Linked DNA regions of Homo sapiens: all the other regions are linked to region 2. The links come from fine-mapping of genetic effects on gene expression. A gene starts in region 2. Each other region holds a variant in brackets. All regions are shown on one strand. Distances are from middle to middle. Region 1 overlaps MAGI1 (membrane associated guanylate kinase, WW and PDZ domain containing 1). Region 2 holds the start of MAGI1 (membrane associated guanylate kinase, WW and PDZ domain containing 1). Region 3 overlaps MAGI1 (membrane associated guanylate kinase, WW and PDZ domain containing 1).

Evidence for each region. PIP is the estimated chance that this variant, and not a neighbour inherited with it, causes the effect.
Region 1: its variant is the best candidate, but not a certain one, in a credible set for the expression of MAGI1 in skeletal muscle (FUSION, PIP 0.56).
Region 3: its variant is the best candidate, but not a certain one, in a credible set for the expression of MAGI1 in cerebellar hemisphere (GTEx, PIP 0.67).

Annotation. Positions count from the first base shown.
Region 1 is chr3:65,448,594-65,452,703 of GRCh38, reverse strand. The region is part of intron 6 of MAGI1 (membrane associated guanylate kinase, WW and PDZ domain containing 1); the gene reads left to right. Among named protein-coding and RNA genes, the nearest start is that of LINC02040, 280 kb to the right of the region's middle. The variant C/T (reference allele first, on the strand shown) is at 2,038.
Region 2 is chr3:66,037,214-66,041,323 of GRCh38, reverse strand. MAGI1 (membrane associated guanylate kinase, WW and PDZ domain containing 1) reads left to right here and starts at 2,406. Exons shown (of 23, transcript NM_001033057.2): 1 at 2,406-3,328. The coding sequence starts at 3,016. It overlaps LOC105377128 (a long non-coding RNA gene), which reads right to left and starts at 2,371. Exons shown (of 2, transcript XR_001740440.2): 1 at 2,126-2,371; 2 at 1,030-1,272. RefSeq lists a silencer at 2,319-2,438 and an enhancer at 3,391-4,110.
Region 3 is chr3:66,014,970-66,019,079 of GRCh38, reverse strand. The region is part of intron 1 of MAGI1 (membrane associated guanylate kinase, WW and PDZ domain containing 1); the gene reads left to right. LOC124900543 (a long non-coding RNA gene) reads left to right here. Exons shown (of 2, transcript XR_007095951.1): 1 at 1-4,110. Among named protein-coding and RNA genes, the nearest start is that of MAGI1, 22 kb to the left of the region's middle. The variant A/T (reference allele first, on the strand shown) is at 2,158.

The sequences.
Region 1 (4,110 bases), 590 kb after region 2:
AGCACCACTCTCCCTGTTAATCTTGGAAATGAACTAACTGGCTGTAAGAGCTTTTGTTGAAAAAGTTCATTTCAAGGCTTTGGGTTTTCTAATTACTTCTCCAAAATGAAAAAAAAAAAAAATTGAAACAGAGCTAGTGTGTCCCTTTTCAGTACACCAACGTCTATCCCAAGTTCTACCAAAATTATTTTTTGATGTGGAAGAATGAAAAGGGAAATGGTTTGCTTCGCTCTGCTTTGCTACTCATTATTCAATTCTGGCATGTGAATTAGTAGTATAATTATTAAATATGTATTTTACTGTAAGATAACAGAACTTTATTATTCGTCCTATAGTGCAGAATGGTTGTATATATAAACTTGAAGATTTTTTGAAAATGCAAGGCAGTATTTTATAGTATAATACTGTGAAAACCTTGCACTCCATGATCCTTCTATTATACATGGTTTGCAGATTACGTTAAATGACATAGACTATTGTGTTGGTATTTATCTGAGTTACTTCAAATGGAAACAAAAGTCCTTCTAACTTAGGAGGCATGACCAAGATGTTTGTTTTATCTTGGTTGCTTTGTTTTATCTTGGTTGCTTTGTTTGATTCCTGAAGAAGGAATAGAACAGGTTCATTCAGCTCTGGTATTTTGCATGCTTGGGAGATAATAGACTATACTGATTATTTCAGTATTCTGTTTAACATGTAATACTGGTTAAGTATCCCTGATCCCAAAATTTGAAGTCCAAAATGCTCCAAAACTGGCCAGGCATGGTGTGGCTCATACCTGTAATCTCAGCACTTTGGGAGGCTGAGGCAGGAGGATCACTTGAGCCAAGGAGTTCAAGACCAGCCTGGGCAATGTAGTGAGACCTTGACTCTACAAATAATAAAACAAAAATTAGCTAGGCGTGTTGGCATGCGCCTGTGGTCCCAGCTACTTGGGAGGCTGAGGCAGAAGGATCACCTGAGCCCAAGAGTAGGAGGCTGCAGAGAGCTGTGATTGTGCCACTACATTCCAGCCTTGGTGACAGAGAGAGACCCTGTCTTAAAAGAAACAAACAAAGCAACAACAGGCTCCAAAATCCAAAACTTTCTGAGTGTCACCATGATGCTCAGAGGAAATGTTCACTGGAGCATTTTGGATCTTGGATTTTCGGATTAGGAATGCTGAGCCAGTAAGTATATTACACAAGTATCTCCAATCTGAAAATATGCAAAATCTGAAACCCTTTTGATTCTAACCATTTTGGATAATGACTACTCAACCTGAACATAAATAACCAGTTTTCAAAGATCATAGCATAAAACACATTCAACCCTAAAATTTCATGGAACAATAATCATTATTTGATGCCTTATGATTTTGAAAGCAATTTAGGCACTTATTACCATAGGGTCTTCAATGTCAATATCCCTTTTGTAATTATTCTGGGAATGTATGAAAATGCTTGTTAATACAATATTATAAGTGATAGAATACTGCAATAGCTTTTACTGAGAAAAACTGTACATAGAGTGAAAGTATTGAATGGAATTGGCATTTTTGTTACCAAATCTAGTAATTTTTAATTCTTAAAATTCTTATCTTTTTGTGTTAATGTTATTTCCTTTGGAACAAGAATGTATTCATACCAAATGCAGTTAGTTTATAATTATCTCTTTAATATTAGAATTCATATATTCTGTTTCTAGTAGAAATTCTATGTATATCTGTGTGCCTGTACACACAAACAGTATAAATATATAATCAGATTATGGTAAGTATCAGTTTGCATTTTCTGTTGCCAGTTAACGCAAAGCTGCCTTGTTATTATTTATAACACAAAGCAGAAAAACATATTGGTTGCAAATATTGTCCCTGTATTTCTTTCTGTTCTCTGTAGGTCATACATATGAGGTGTAACAGTATAGCATCATACTTAATTATTATAAAGATTTAATATGTTCTATTTCCTATCTCAGAAAATCGAGAAACTGGTTTGAGATTTTGATGTTAGTGAATGACTCCTTCTGTCACTGCTGTGTCCAGTTCAGTTAGAAGCC[C/T]TCAGTGTTGCCTTTGAACTCCAGACCAATATTGTAATCCATGTGATTGATAATGTCAACGATTGTCTCAAAGATACTTCGACTTAGTCGTATTAAAACCATTAAAACTGATGATCTTTCCCCCCAAATTACGTAATATACAAAGTGTTTCCTGTCTCCATTCATGGTAAATTTATGCATACTCAAAATTCCCCCTTGATATGTCACTTTTCTTCACACCTATTTCTAACCCGTGAACCAGCTGAATTCAGTTGGCATCCTAAATATCTCTTGGATCCATTCACTATTTTTTTCACCGCATCTTCCATTCTCATCTGGGATCATGCTCATCTCCCATACAGACTCTTTTCACTCTCCTTTTTATGTTGTACTCGGAGAAATCTTTTAAAATGTAAATGTGATGATGTTATCGCTGACAACCTCCACAGGGTCTGCTTAGGAAATGCCAGGTCCATAGCTTGCTACTCTGAGCCCTGTGTGGTCAGCCTCTCTAGGTTTTCTCACACTATTTCTCTGCTCTCTGCTCTTCATCCCCACTAGTCCTCATTGAGTTCCTGCCTCATGTCAGTTAAATGTGCATTTCTCTCTTAGAATACGCTTACATTTCACTATACTCTTATATTTCACAATAGTTATTGAATAATTTCTGTATGTCACGTGCATCCTAGGTATTCGAATGTGTCAATGAATACAACAGACATTAAACTTTGCATATCCTTCAGGTTATACTTCAGGGAATTTTTCCATGACTTTGCCCCCAAAAATATGATTAGGTCACTCATGTATCTTACTCTGTTGAGAACTTATCATGGTTTTAATTTTAGTTTTATTTGTGTGAGCCTTGGATTTGTCTCCTGTTCTGGAAAAGTAGAGATGTCTGATTCTGTTTTTTGAGATGGAGTCTCGCCCTGTTACCCAGGCTGGAGTGTGGTGGCATGATCTCTGCTCACTGCAACCTTTGCCTCCCTGTTCAAGCGATTCTCCTGCCTCAGCCTCCCGAGTGGCTGGGATTACAGGTGAGCGCCACCTGCCTGACTAATTTTTTTGTATTTTTAATAGAGTCGGGGTTTCACCATGTTGGCCAGGCTGGTCTCGAACTCCCAACCTCAGGTGATCCACCCACTTTGGCCTCCCAAAGTGCTAGGATTACAGGCATGAGACACCACGCCTGGCCCCTGATTGTGTTCATTTTGATATGTCACCTAGCACAGTGACTGGCACATCATAGGTCTTGATAAATAACTACTGAAGAAGTGAACAAATGCTCCCAAAGACATTAGATAATATCCAAATGGGCATTTTCACAGATGACTTTGTGTAAATTAGATTCTCCTTTTAAGAAACGGTGCCAATCAAAACTTACCGCTGGCAGTGGGATCATTTTTTTATTATTATTATACTTTAAGTTCTAGGGTATATATGCACAACGTGCAGGTTTGTTACATATGTATACATGTGCCATGTTGGTGTGCTGCATCCATTAACTCGTCATTTACATTAGGTATTTCTCCTAATGCTATCCCTCCTCCCTCCCCCCACCCCACAACAAATCAAGAGTTTACAAGGTGTCTAGGCCCATGTTGGTTATTTAAGTCAATCATTGATTGATTGGTTCATTCATTCATTCATCAAGAAATATTTAGTACCTAACATGTGCAGAAGGCTACACTGGGCACTGAGCGTATTGTGGTACTGAAAACAGGCTCAATTCCTGTGTTTGTGAAGCTTATAGGAGCCACTTGCCCTGACCCTGGGGAAACATTATGTATGAAATGATTTTTGTGTGTTCTCCCATGTTTTCTTCTCAACAATAAGAAAATGTTGTACTGACAGCAAGAGGACGAGGTCAAGAACAGAAAGGATTTGGACTTGTTTTGCTCCCTGAAATTTTTGAGGACATTTTAATTCTAATATTTCTGAGCTCCTTGACTTAGAAAGTGTGTGTGTGTGTGTGTGTGTGTGTGTGTGTATGTGTTTTCTCACAAAACCAGTTAAATGCCTCCCAACACTCCTTCAGGGCAGTTTTCAAGGCTTTCTTCTTTGATATATTTTATCTTGACGTAATTCATCTTT
Region 2 (4,110 bases):
ACATGGAAAGTAAAAATGTACATTTTTGTGGAAAGAGTCATTTGACAAATATTTTAGCATTTGCTAGTACGAGGCACCATTCTAGGAACTGGGAATAATACATCAGTAAACCAAACTGTCAAAGTGTCCTGACCTCCTTGAGTTTTTATTTTACACAGAGATGTGGATCACAGGTTTATTTGACAAAAAGGTCTGGGACCCAAACAATGCTTTGGAATCAAGATACTAAACCTATGGTGCTCAGCGTTGTGTACCAACAACACATAAGGGGAACCTTAAAAGTTCAAATGACTTAGCCCTTCCTTGACATTCTGATTGGCTGGATCTGTGCTCGGGTTTGATAATTTATGTTTTGAAGTGCTGTTCATATTGACCTAGATTGCTTCTGAAAAAAAGCTGGAGACAAAGTTCCTCTCACCAAGCAAAGCCATGGAAAATTGGTCACCTCCTTTTTTCAGAAACACAACAATGCAATGGGATTTTCAGTTCTGGATATCCCAAGAGAGAAGCATCAACATCCCTCCTTACTTTTATTAGCTTAGAATAGCACCCTACAATGCTTTAAAAGGATGTTTAAACGTATGCCTAAACCAGGTATGGTGGCTCACATCTATAACCCCAGCACTTTGGGAAGCTGAGTCAGGAGGTTGGCTTGAGCCCAGGAGTTTGAGACCAGCCTGGGCAATCAACATAGGGAGACCCCCCCATGTCTACAAAAAATCAAAAAAATAAAACTAGCTGGGCATGGTGGCATGTGCCTATAATTCCAGATACTCAGGAGGCTGAGGTGGTAGGATTGCTTGAGTCCAGAAGTTCGAGGTTACAATCAGCTAGTCGAGCTACTGCACTCCAGCTTGGGGACAAAGCAAGACCACGTTTCTAAAAACACCACCACCACCATCAAAAAACAAACACACAAAGTATGCCCATATTTTCTAAGTTCTAGAAAGGAGAGGATAAATTATCATACTTACTAACTTGAATCCCCAAATGATTTCCCAATTTTCTTCCCAAATAGTAATACTACTATTAAGAATATAATGAGTTTTTATTATTTGCCACTTTATAAGTGTTTTCCCACGTAATACTTCCAAGAACCCTGTGAGGTCTTGTTCTACTTATTTGATCAGCGAGAAACGGAGGCGCGGAGGTCACCAAGCTTGCTCAAGGTCACACAAGGGTGGACCCCTGAGCCTACCTCTCAACCTCGACTGCTGTGTCCATCCTTTCTTCATCGTTTCAACGTACCCCCCTCATTTCTTGGAATCTCTCCTGTGACCAAAGATGAACAAAATTATACATCACTAAAGAGGAAAACAAACTGCTGGGGAGACTACTCAGCAGCCTGATTTGAGGAGTATTTGGGAAGGGCAGCCTTCCTGTGGTATGGGAGTCTTTCTGTCCGCCACCTCGCCGGGACAGAAGTCACTCCATCCGCACCCCCGGGCGACCTCCGGAGGCCGCAGCTACCCCCGGGCTGCGAATTCCGAGTTCTCTCACGCCCCCGCGGGCGCCAGGACGCAGGGCATGTCCGCGCCCGGCGGGGATCCTTATCTCCTGGCCCCGGAGTAGGTCCGCAGGCTTCTCGGCCCTGCCAGGAACTTGAGGCCGGGGCAGATGATTGACTGGGTCCAGCAGTCTCTGCTGGCAGGGCAGTTGAAAAGCTAGAGGGATCTCTTTTTTGGTTGAATACCTGAACCCACACTAGCACCATGGCTTCTCTCTCTTGCCTGTAGTTTCCCGTGTCCTAAAAAGTTGGTCCCAAAGTTTAAGGATGCGGGTGTGTGTAAGAGCGCGTGTGACCCGCACAGGGATCCCAGTTGGGGAACCGGAGGATCCCACCGTCCCCCTCCCCCGGGTCGCAGAGACCCTGGCAGACCCCGCGCCAGGACCCGAACCCGCAAGCGCAGGGCAGGCAGGGAGGCGGCGAGCGCCCCGGGGCGGGTCTCGGGGGTTTCAGTGGGACCTGCGGCAAGGGGGGCGGCGAACCAGCCGGGCTGGGTGACCGACAGCCTGGCCAGCCACTGGCCGAGGGCGGTTAGGAGGCTTAGGGCCGGCGCGAGTGCGTGCGCGTGTGCGTGAGTGTGAGCGCCAGGGTGAGTGTGGCAGCCTCCCCAACCCCCACCTGTTTGAAATGGTTTTCAAATGCCAAAGCCAGATTGCCCGGGTTTCAAAAGTTGCAAACAGTTGGAGTAAAACACGTGTGCGGCCCTCCAGCCCCAAAGGAATCCGCGGAGTCCAGGGCACTGAAAGAAAAGGAGAGAGGATAGGGGTTCAGGAAGGGTTGGGGGGGAGTTGCCTTCTCCCGGCAGGTCGGTTTTAGGACCCATCGGGAAGCACGTTGGAATCTCTCCCTTCGGGGAGGAGGGGAGGGGTGGGCCGGCCGGCTGGCGGCCGCGGGGCGCATGCGCGCGCGTCTCCTGTCGCCGGCCGCTGCGCTCCGCGGCGCGGAATAGAATGAACTGTAACAAAACAAGCCGAGCCTTTGTATCTGCTTAAAGGGGCCGCGAGCACTTACCTCCCGCCCTGCTCCCCGCCGCCCCGCCACCGCGTCTTCAGGGCTCCCGGCAACTGGCTGGAAGGGCTTCCCTCACCCTCAGTAACAGCCTGCCAGCGAGGAGAGGCGAGCCGGGCGGGAGGCAAAGAGGAGGCACCGCATTTGTAAAAGGCAAGAGAGAAAGGAAGGAAGGAAAAAAAAATAACCCGAGCGGCGCAGAGTGGACTCTGGTCCGGGAGAGCACGGGCGGGCGCCGGAACGTGGACCCAGAGGCACCGGAATGCAAACAAAGCTCGCGGGCGCCTGTGCGGGGCTCGCGGGGAAGCCCAGAAAGTTTGTTTTATGATGGCTTGAGTGCGCGAGCGTGTGCAGGGGAGCGAGGCTGCCAAGTTTCTCTCTCCTGTTTTGTGATTTGGGGAGAGATGTTTCTCCCATGAACAAGCGGAGGCTTGGGGGCTCGTGCTGTGGGGGGCACCTGTCTCTCGTTTTATTTTTTTGGAGGAGGGGTGTAACTCATCATGTCCAAAGTGATCCAGAAGAAGAACCACTGGACTAGCAGGGTTCACGAATGCACCGTGAAGCGGGGACCCCAGGGCGAGCTGGGGGTGACGGTGCTGGGAGGCGCGGAGCACGGGGAGTTTCCGTACGTCGGAGCGGTGGCGGCGGTCGAGGCAGCGGGGCTTCCCGGCGGCGGCGAGGGCCCGAGGCTGGGCGAAGGGGAGCTGCTTCTGGAGGTGCAGGGGGTCCGGGTGTCCGGCTTGCCCCGCTATGACGTGCTGGGGGTCATCGACAGCTGCAAGGAGGCCGTCACCTTCAAGGCCGTCAGACAAGGTAAGGCAGGGCGCGCCTTTGGGGGGCGCCCCGAGAAAAGGAGGGTGGTCTGTGGGCTGCCCCTTATTCTCGATTTCCTGCTTCCCTCCTCGGAGCGCAGTGAAGAGAAGTTGAGGCCGTGCGCCCTGTGGTGGCGGTGAAATACACAAAGTTGTTGCGAGGTTGAGGGTTGTTTGCCCACCTGCGTTTCGAAGAGGGGGCTGGGTTTGCGCAAGGTAGCGGGGGGACGTTTCTCAGGCCTGGCTGGCCAACCTGTTATCTCCGCCACTAAGTGCAGCGCAGTCTCGCCTGCACCCGAGAGAGAGTTGGGGAACTGAGTCAGGGGCATGGTGGACGCTGTCCTGGCTCCTTGGGGGAGGGATGCAGCTGGCGTTCTTTGGCCACGAGTCAGTTTCCATACCTGCTGAGTGGGTATACAGAAAGAGAGGGTCTGTAGTTTATTGGACCTCCCCCATCAGAAAATCTGCTTCACCCCGCGACCCCTCCAGGTGAGCTAGGACACCACTGCCTGGCGGTTCCTGAGCCCGCCGCCAGAAGAGCCTGCATTCACCCCTCAGCCGGATGACGCATGTGTCTCCACCGTGTGGCTCAGCCATACACTTGGGAGGGGGAGAGGGGGAAGGGGTGCTTGCTTTTAGCTCGAATCGGGTCCAAGTTTACCCTCCCACCACCACCATCATCGTCATTATTGATGATGAAAATGAAGCTACTATTCATTGTTGGTTTACTACATGCCCGGCTCTGTGTAAAATACTTTACTTGCACTATCTCACTCCGATTCA
Region 3 (4,110 bases), 22 kb after region 2:
TACTCTCCTTATGGCCAGGCAGTACCTGGCAGCTGAGCAGCATAAACATTTGTGGAATGAATGAGTGAATGAATGAACCAATCAAGATGGCATCCTTCTTGGTGTGGGTAGGTACCTTCCAATTGGATATGGCTCAGGGAAGATACGAGAATTTACCGGAAGCCTTGAACAGTTCTGGGGAACAATGGAGACACACTGTGGCTTCCCAAAGGGAAGAGCGAGAGGTGATCAGACAGCCAGTTCTCATTCTTGCAAAACTTGACAAGCAATGACTTGAAAGAGGAGGATGGGAGGTAAGTAATGAGACCAACCCATGCTGTGCTGAGTGAGGTGAGAGTCAGAGCTCAGGTGGCTGATTAAGACCCCGAGCACTCAGAATGCAGAAGGCTGCAAAGAGGGTCACCAGCCCATCAGCGGCCACCAAAGGCTGTACCAAGTCCACCTGGAACCTAGCCACAAGGGATGGTGATCATGATCCATGTGAGGCAAGATAGTTTACTGGTTACAGTGGTCACTGGCCTATTTTCAATTCCTTCACCGGCCCTTACCGGCTGTGTGACCTTGATCACTTGCTTAACCTCTCTGTGCCTCAGTTTCTGCATCTATTAAAAAAAAAATGCCTGGCTCTTTGTGCCTGGCTGGAGGCCACTTAGCCTAGAATTTTGGAATCCCAGGGTTTAACTCCTGGCACTGAATACCCTTGTTGGAAGGTAGAGAATGGGATGTCACCTCTGGGGTACTAGAGTATGGCCAAATGCTGTTAACCAGGCAGTCAGTCTTTGGAAGAAAATACTCTGCTTTTACATCCCCTGGTGGTAGCAGAAAGTTACACGTGTGAAAATATGCAGGGGCTGCTCCTGTGTGTGTTGGGGTGAGGGTGTAGTGGAGGTTAAAGGTATTTTGTTCCAGCCAGGCTTGTAAAAGAAAACAACATTAAATGGGCATGTGCAGACACCCCCCCCCCCCACCAAAGTGTCCTTCCTTATCTTTGTCTCCTGGTTGTGTGTTCATGAAGCACAACCACCAAAAATTGTGGACCGCATCTCTGACCAAGATCAAAGGAGGAAAAATAAATGAGTCCAAGACAAAGCAATTTACAGATATTAATTCCCAAAGAAGAGTAAAGATGTTTGCTTTTTCTCTCAGCTTGTTGGTTCTCAGCATTCTCATTGTTTAACTATTCTAATGGTTTCTGCCTCCTTCTTTGTGTTTTCCTAAGAGTCCTTTCTTTTCAAAGTTGGGATGACTTCCAGCTCTCACCTGCCCAATCTGTCCTGTCACCTGGCTGTTGGGCTTCATGTATGAAAGTGAAAACCGAGGAGAGTAGACCTATACGGATGATAACAATAGTGGAGCTTGATTTAGTGCCTCTCTACTCAGGCTTTGCACTGAGGGCCACACGTGCACCATCCTTCATCCTTAGCACGTGCTGTGAAGTGTGTGTACCATCCTCTCCAGTTTAGCGGTCAGAACCCTGAGCCTTGGAAGTTGTTACTTGTCTGAGATTAGGTGACAGCAGATTAGGTGACAGCGGTGGGTTTCCTCTAGCTTGGTGTTCGTCAGGAGGCTGCATTGTTGCCTGGTGACAGGTGGCAGGATCCCCTTCAGGGTGTGATGTACCATTGTGTGAATTAAGGGTAGGTGACCCCCTGGAGTTTGATCTGAAGAAAGCTGAGGCCAGGCACCCTTCCTTGCACCCTCCGTTGGGAGGGAGACGTTGGTGCCTTGGCGATGGTTTCACTGCGAGCCTGGCTCATTGCAGCGCGGAGCTTCCCGGTTTTTCCATCTGCAGCCGCGCCCTGCGCGTGTTGAGACACAAGTGCTTGCGTCTTCCCGCACTGACTAACTCCTACTTTCTCCTTGGGGTTCCCGGCAGTGCAACTTGGCACTTCATGAACGTAGCAAGGTTCTATGAGACTTAAACAAAATTGTGGTAAAATATACGTAACATAACATAAAATTAACCATTTTAATTATACAATTAAGTGGCATTAAGTATATTCAGGTTATTATGCAGTTATTACCACCATCCATCTCCAGAACTTTTTCATCTTCTCCTACTGTGCCTATTACCAACTCCCCATTCCCCTTTCCCCTGGCCCCTGGTGACCTCTAAATTTCTTTCTCTGTGAATTTGACTACTCCAGATACCTCATA[A/T]AAGTGAAATCGTACAGTGTTTACCCTTTTGCGACTGGCTTATCTCAATTAGTGTAATGTCCTCAAGATTCATCCACGCTGCAGCGTGTCAGAATTTCCTTCCTTCTAAAGTCTGAATAATATTCCATTGTGTATGTACCCCATTTTGCTCACCCTTCATCTGTTGATGGAGATTGGGTTGTTTCCACCTTGTCCTATTTGACTTTTATCTTCCCACTCCCCTTGGAAGCAGGTGGAGTCAGATTTTCTTGATGTCCTGACCTCCTCCATTCTGCTTTTCTTTCTTGCTCAGTTTTGCCTGACTTTCCCTGGGTCTCTCCGGAGCACCACTTACCCAAAGTCTCCAGCTCCGGTGCTGGGGCACATATTGCCAGAGTAGAGCCTTGCCAGCAACGTGTCCTCGTCGCTTCTTTGCAAAGGGTGTGTGTATTGGTCAGCTGTTCTTCGGTCCCGCCATCAGCTTTGACCCAGTCGACCCTTCCACCTTTCTGGCTTGGAGGCTGTATGCTCAGTAATTATGTGCACAGGATTTGAATTTCATGTAGTCCGGGTTCAAATCTGGTCCTGCTGCTTCCTTGCTATGTGGCCTTGGGTACATGTTTTTACTTCTGTGAAGTAGCAGTAATAAGAGCACATATCTTATATGATTGCTACAGGGATTCAATGAAATGATGCAGTCAACTCTCGGCATGGAACACAGAGCAAAGGCAACACTGAATGACTGATAGTTATTACCATATTAATTTTGTCAGTTTTCCTCCTTTGAATCTGATCACTTGATTCTAGGCTTGTGGAGGCGCTGAATAGACTTCGTAATTGACTCAAAACACTTCTGTTTTAACACTCTGGGTTTTTATCTTCTTTCCTGGCACCACTACCTCCTTTGAGATTTTATAGAGCTGAATTTGTTGGACCAAATTATATGGAGCATATTTGATAGAAACACATTCTAAGTATACTGTCTTTATGTCCTCATGTTATTTCCTTTCGATTTCTTGAAGTCTCAATTTAGTCACCACTCTGTAGGAAGCTACAAATGATGATAGAGCAATTAAGTGATCCCTGAGTCTTTAGTGTTCTAGAATGATTGATGTACAGATAGAAAGAGAGAAAATGCGTATAGACATTTTCCAATAAACTTTATGTCAGGGTAGTTTCCTGGTTTGGTCAATTTTTCTTTCTGTTGATTATTCCAGTGTAGATGGGATAAAAATTAAGCTACTAGACATTTATTGCTTATAAACTTTTTGGCATATTTAAAAAATATCATCTAATTGTTATTTTAAGGCAGTAGCTATAGAATATCTAGCATATATGTACCCCTTACTCTATGCCATCCTTTGCTGGAAGTGCTTTTTATCAACTCATTTACTTCTCAATCAGCTCTATGAAATGTGTTATAATCATTCCCATTTTTGAGAGTAGGAAATTGAGGCACAGAGGAGTTAAGATTTTTTTTTTTCACTGCTGTTAATGGTAGGCAAAGTTGGGAAACAAACCAGGTTCTTAGGTTCAGGCTGGGAGGGGGTTGGCTGCGTCCACAGTTATCAATGAGGAAATGGATGCCTGCAGGACGTAAGGTGCTTTACTGGGCTCAGCAGAGCCAGGGCTTTATATCCAGGTCTTTTATATATCCAAAGCTTATTTTTATTTACCATAGCTGTCTTAATTTATCAATTAGTACGTGTGTATTATGTCTTTGTATTTCTATTTTTATTTTTTAGATTTTTTTTTTTTTTTTTTGTAGAGACAGGGTCTCACTGTATTGCCTAGGCTGGTCTTGAACTCCTGGGCTCAAGCAATCCTCCTGCCTCAGCCTCCCAAGGTGCTGGGATTACAGGCATGAGCCACCCTGTCTGGTCTGGGAGAGGGTGCTGGGTGAGGGGATGGTGGTGGGGCAGGATTAAACAGTGCTGCAGGCATTCCCAGAAGGAAAAGATCATGTAGCGATGA